Linked DNA regions of Homo sapiens. The protein of the gene in region 2 purifies or fractionates together with the protein of the main gene of each other region. This does not show direct contact. Each region holds a gene or a part of one and is shown on either strand. Other genes may lie near its edges.

Region 1 (3,500 bases), on a different chromosome or scaffold from region 2:
GATAATACCGAAGTCTCTCTATATTTTTTCCTAGATATATATACCTATGATATAGTTTAATTTATAAATTAGGCACAGTAAGAGATTAACAATGACTAATAATAAATTAGAACACTTGTAACAATATACTGTAATAAAAGTTATATGAATGTGGTCTCTCAAAATACTGTAATATTTTTGACAATGGTTGACTGTGGTAACTGAAACCACAGAAAGCAAACTTGCAGATTAGTGGGGGACTACTGTACTTTTTTATCATAAGCTTCTCTGACATTCCTTTTTAGACTTAAGTGTGCCTTCTGTCACCAAATTCTGAGTCTGTGTTCCAATCAATCAAATTAGATTTAGTTCCTCACATCCAGGACATCACTTCTCCAGACTATTTTAATAACGAATTACTGATGAGGCATTGGGAAAAGAACACAGAAGACTTTGATGACTGCAAGGTCATAAGTTCCTCAGTGACTACTGAGTTCTACTAATTTCAAGTTACAATACTAGGCAAATCTTGATAAGTTAGAAGTCAGGAAGCTCCAGAATTAACACATTCTACTTGGCTTTCAGGGGCAAAGACAAAACAAAAAGAATGTATTGAAACTGAACTCCTTAAGAAGTAATCTTTTATATATGCATGTATCAAAACATCATGTTGTATACCATGAATATACATAATTTGTCAACTAAAAAATTTTTAAAAAATTGTTTATTTTCCCCTTGCTTTCTGCTCCTCTGCTTCACTCCTCTGCTGTTCTCCTTTCCTCCCTCCCTCCCCTCATTTTCTCCTTTCCTCCCAGACTTCCCTTCTTTTTTTTTTTTTTTTTTTTTTGAGATGGAGTCTCACTCTGTTGCCCAGGCTGGAGTGCAGTGGTGCAATTTCAACTCACTGCAACCTCCGCCTCTCGGGTTCAAGCAATTCTCCTGCCTCAGCCTTCTGAGTAGCTGGGATTACAGGCATGAGCCATGACGCCCGGCTAATTTTTGTACTTTTAACAGAGACAGGGTTTCGCCATGTTGGCCAGGCTGGTCTCAAACTCCTGACCTCAGGTGATCCACCCACCTTGGCCTCCCAAAGTGCTGGGATTACAGGCGTGAGTCACTGCACCCGGCCGCCTTGTTTTAAAAATACGATTTTCTCGAACTCCTGACCTCAAGTGATCTGCCTGCCTCGGCCTCCCAAAATGCTGGGATTACAGGCATAAGCTACCGTGCCCAGCCTAGAAATACAATTTTCTTTTGCTGTTTACTAAAAATCTGCATACAAGAAGAACGAAGAGCATATCCACCAGCCGAAGCATGTGACTCCTTGGCCTCATTGTTTTAAGGATTTCCTTTTATACATGAATACAAACCAGGATTCCTTGGTTCTGCTTCTAACCTGAAGTGGGCCTGGTTTTCATGAGTACAGAGTGACCTAGCAGAAACAATGCTATGTTTTCCAGGTCGGAAGAGATCACTTACTTTTTCTTGGAAGCACAAGAGTTTAACATAAACAAGCTAGGATATCAAAGGTACACTTCAATCTCAATAATAAAAGTTTATATAGAGGAAGGTCAGTAGGATAATTCAGCTAATAGCAGTTATTTTCCATTTCAGGCATAAAGTAATTTCTATCTAATTCTAGCTCAAACATAAAGGAAAAAAGTGTGTGTATGTACATATAGAGTGGTAAAAAGACTTACCCCTTGTGCGTGAAGATATTCAACGGTTTTAGTTATAGTGAACAGGACAGCACTGGCCTCTCGTTCAGAGAAAAATTTTTGTCTAAGAATTTTATCCAGCAATTCACCTCCTTTCATAAGTTCTGTTACTACATACACATACTTTCCATCATCATATACCTATAAATTTCAACATCAAAATGTAAATATTATTTGAAACTATATGTGCCCAAAACGAAGTTTAAAATATAAAGGAAAAATTAAACTCACTTCATATTCAAGACAAATTTTATTTATTTATTTATTTTGAGACAGACTCTGTCGCCCAGGAGTGCACTGGCACAATCTTGGCTCACTGCAATATCCACTTCCTGGGCTCCAGCGATCCTCCCACTTCAGCCTCTCAAGTAGCTGGGACTATAGGCGCATGCCACCACACCTGGCTAATTTTTGCATTTTTTGTAGAGACGAGCTTTTGCTGTGTCTCCATGAGCAGGGATAATCTGAGGAAATTTGAGTTTTGACAACCCCCAGATAAGGCCTTTGGGCCTATTGAGCATCATTAGCAAGAGAAGACTTAACACTACCTGGGGAGTTCACACTGTTTGCCAACACTTTGTTATAATAAAAGTCAAGAGAGACATAGGCAACAGGGTTATCATGACAGTCCAGGGAAAGATACTTTACTTGTCCTGGGGGTGGCAATGGGCAGGGCAGGCTTCCTGGAAGAAGCAGTGCCTTAGCAAAATCTTATATGTGTGGTAGTTAGCCAGGTAAAGAAAATAGATGGTGTTGGCAACTGAGGGAACTATAAATTCAGACATAACAGCATGGAAAATGAGGCATGCGCAAGAAATTTACATACTAGAACACAGAGCATCAGGTGTATGAGAAAGGGTGTGTGAGAAGTCTGAAAACTACAGAGGAAGGCAGGGTCTTAAGCGGCTGGGGACTTTAGACTGTAGGCAGGGAAGTTAAATGGGTAGTTATGAGTGTTAGATCTCTTTTCTAGTAATGTGGAAGATACTTTGGGGTAGTCTGGAGAGTGAGACTAGTCAATATTGAATATGAACTAATAGTAATATTAACACTGAACATTTAGGTAAGTGTTCAAGTAAGTGCAGATATTAAAAGCAATAATATCGTAAGTACTTTTCTTCTTAAAGCAAAAGTAGAAAAAAATAACTGTACAAACATATCTTTATTGATAAATGAAATTATGCCATATACACATATAAATTGTTTTCAAATCTACTTTTTAAACTTACCATGTTGAATTTTGTTTTGTTTTGTTTTTGTTTTTGAGACAGGGTCTTGCTCTGCTGCGCTGGCTGGAGTGCAGTGGTGCGATAACTGCTCACTGAGGTCTTGACCTGCCGGGCTGAAGCAATCCTCCCACCTCAGCCTCCAGAGTAGCTGCGACTATAGGCATGAGCCACCATGTCAGGCTAATTTTTAAATATTCTTTAGAGACAGGGTCTCCCTATGTTGCCCAGGCTGGTCTTGAACTCCTGGGCTCAAGCAATCCTCCTGCCTCAGCCTCCCAAAGTACTGGGATTACAGGTGTGAGCCACTGTGCTCGGCCTGGCTAATTAAAAAAAAATTTTTTTTTGTAGAGATGGAGATCTCACTGTGTTGACCTGGCTGGTCTTGAACTCCTGGCCTCAAGTGATCCTCCTGCCTTGGCCTCCCAAACTGCTGGGATTACAGGCGTGGGCCACTGTGCCCAGCCTATGATGAGTTCTTTGTCTACCACATGATTTTTGAAAATACACTACTTTCAATGTGAGTTAGACAACTGATTCAAATGATCCATATTAAAGAATCTACTTACATCCTTTA
Region 2 (3,057 bases):
GAGATGCAGTCTCACTCCGTTGTGTAGGCTGGAGTGCAGTGGTGGGATCTCAGGTCACTGCAACCTCCGCCTCCTGGGTTCAAGCATTTCTCATCCCTCAGCCTCCTGGGTAGATGGGATTACAGGCGTTCGCCACTATACCTGGCTAATTTTCGTATTTTTAGTAGAGACGGGGTTTCATTATGTTGGCCAGGCTCGTTTCATATTCTACTCCATTTTTCCCAGTTATATTTCAAAATATTTCAGATACATGTAAATTAATAGGAAAAGAAGTTTAACTTTAGGAAGATAGTAATTTAATTAATGTCATTTTAGCTTTCAGTAATTAACATCTAAAAACCATAAAAAATACTTTTAAAAAAATTGAAATTAAACTGCATTTTTCATTTCCTTGACTCCAATTTGAATGGAAAGTGTGTGTAGAAGTATAGCCATCACATCTGCCCTACCATCCTTCTCCTGTCCCACCCTATCCTACAAAAGATCAGAGAAAGCACAAAAAAAGTTATAAAACAAAATTTATTATGCAATACTTTCTCATAATGAATTGCATCTCTTTGGTAAAAATAAACTTTATAAACATTTTAATAATCAGAGATTAGATACAAAAACTAAGTATTTGTAAGTTGTTTTTAATATGAGCAAAGATTGGCAACTGAGAAGTGGTTCACTTGTGACTGGTCATCTACTGGCAGTTATAACTCAAACCGGGACAATTTTTATGCTACATCAGAAAAGAGGATAAGGAAACAGTTTGATAACAAATTTGTTGAATCAGAAAGCATTCTTACACTTTCATTTAAAAATAAATAATAGTTACAATCAATTGGCAATTATACATTTTTATACACTATATGATGGCAACATAATACTTTAAAATTAAGCACTTAGTTTAATAAGAAATGTACAACGATTTAAAAAATAAGTTTTGACAATGGCACTGGCAGTTAGATGCAAAGAATATGCTTTAAGAAAAAAAATGGCAGGTATAACATTAAAATACTCGAATTCACCTTTCAATAAATATTTTTACTACATCATTAACATACTGAAGTAAACTTGGTTTAAATCAAAGCTTACACATTTCAAACTAAAAAAAAAAAAAAATACAAAAAAACACCTGTAAGATATATGTAAACCAGAAAGCCTCACAGTTTCTTAGATAAATGCTGTGATCTTCACAAAAGGGTGTTAAGTTGTTGTAGTATTTAAGACAATGGTCTTTACAGCTTTGTGAAGTATTCACATCTGTTGCTTAAATTGCTGGCAAAGGCCTCCTGGTCTACCAAGACATATACATTCCCTCCTTAACACATTCTCTAGTTTGACTTTGTGCTAAAGTATATTTAACTGAACATCTAGTATGAGCCCTTTACATAATGCCTCAGAAAGTAGCAAAAAGAAAAAAATATATATATACTAAACTTTACTATATACAAAGGAATCCAAGTTAAAAGAAGTCATGCTGGCTATGAGGACAGGAAAGGCTTGAAGGTGGAAAAAGGGAGGTGATCCACCTTTTCCATGAATTCAGGTAATCTGTTTTCTTTCTCTGAATTTGGAAAAGTAAAATAATAACTGATTTAGTAATATATTGCACAAAAAAACTTCAAAAATATATATTCAAGAAACAGTGATTCTGTTTGGGATGTGAAGATGAACAATTGTGTTGAATCAAAGCTTTTTACTAGGGATCTATTATAAACTGGAATCAGCTGCAACAAAACATATTCTTTTGACGTAAGGCAAATTATATGTTAGCTTATATCACAGTTTTTAGGATATGTTGGAAAACATGTAACCTCCTTGGAGTTTCTAAGTTGACTTTATTACAGGAAAATTTGTATATTATAGGGAATACAATTTCCAGGCCATAGGACTTGGAATGACTCTACTTAATTGTGTGGTTATTAGTCATGTTTCTCAAAACACCTGAGGAATGAGAGCATACTCTCAGTGGAAGTAGTAAATGGAGGACCATAATTTAAAAGGTTCTTCCCTTGAAAATAACTGACTTGGTATGTTAGCAAGTGGAAGGTGATGCATTAAATTATGTTTAAGAAACTGTAAAATATTGTGTAACCTCTCCCTGTTAGCTTTCAGTGCACAAGTGTTTATCATCCTTGCTAGTGATGAATATAACTTAAACATTTAAATTCGTGGGAAGAGTGAATAAAAAGGAAGAGAAAAATCAAAAGATGTAAAGAATTACTGTTACATACATCAAGACAAAATAACTTTGAAGATCCCTATTAGAGCTGGAACTAACTCTGCTTCTCTTTCCTTTCCTTATAAAGAGTAATTATCTAATGGACAAAAACCAGGTAGCACATTTGTGATACAGAATTTCAGCAGAACAAAATAAACTGGTGCCAGATCACTGAAACACTGTTCCTAAGGTCTATACAGAGGCTATGGTAAATAACTTAAAAATAGTTATTAAGATGATGTGTATAATCTATTATTTATACTGTGGTTAAAGCATTTTTGGGTTTTTGGTGTTTTATTCACTGTCTATAATAAAAGTTAACTTGGTTTAGCCATTTTCTGTAGATGTGATCGATCTAAAAAAAAAACCCAAATACCTCATCCTGCATGCTTAAGGGTTTTCATTATTAACAAATTTAAAAATTACTATATTTTGACAGCACCAATTCATTAATGTGGCTATCCAGGTTAAATTAAATTTAACATGGAAACAGAACAGAGAACATTAATACTGTTATCCCTGACTTAAAGTCTTGTCAATTGAAAAAAAAGTTTTTAAAATCATTTTTCTCATTTGACAGTTTTGCCAAAATAAAAATTAAAAGTTAAAATTTGTCTCTTAAAAAATGCTTTATAATCACAGAAACAGCTGAAAGCAAATCAACATCATGACCTTGACTGTGCATATGTGTATATGTATGTGTACATATGTATACAATCTATCAGAATAATGAAAACAAGGTCATTGTCTATGACTTAGGATGTAGCATAAGACTGAACTTTCAGAAAGTTGCTTCCACCATTGTAAAAAAAAGATACAATGAATTAGTTTAGCATCCTATTGTTTCT

What was found. Proteins that work in one complex are often made in the same cells at the same time.
Region 1: the proteins of FOXN2 (region 2) and RPS6KA3 purify together in Homo sapiens (affinity purification with western blotting; one study listed by BioGRID). This does not show direct contact.

What each region holds. Positions count from the first base shown.
Region 1 is NC_000023.11:20,165,910-20,169,409, forward strand, and holds part of RPS6KA3 (ribosomal protein S6 kinase alpha-3), read right to left. Parts: coding exon 3,493-3,500; intron 1,839-3,492; coding exon 1,680-1,838; intron 1-1,679. UniProt on the Homo sapiens protein: Serine/threonine-protein kinase that acts downstream of ERK (MAPK1/ERK2 and MAPK3/ERK1) signaling and mediates mitogenic and stress-induced activation of the transcription factors CREB1, ETV1/ER81 and NR4A1/NUR77, regulates translation through RPS6 and EIF4B phosphorylation, and mediates cellular proliferation, survival, and differentiation by modulating mTOR signaling and repressing pro-apoptotic function of BAD and DAPK1.
Region 2 is NC_000002.12:48,376,739-48,379,795, reverse strand, and holds the end of FOXN2 (forkhead box protein N2), read right to left. Parts: 3' UTR 501-3,057; downstream 1-500. UniProt on the Homo sapiens protein: Binds to the purine-rich region in HTLV-I LTR.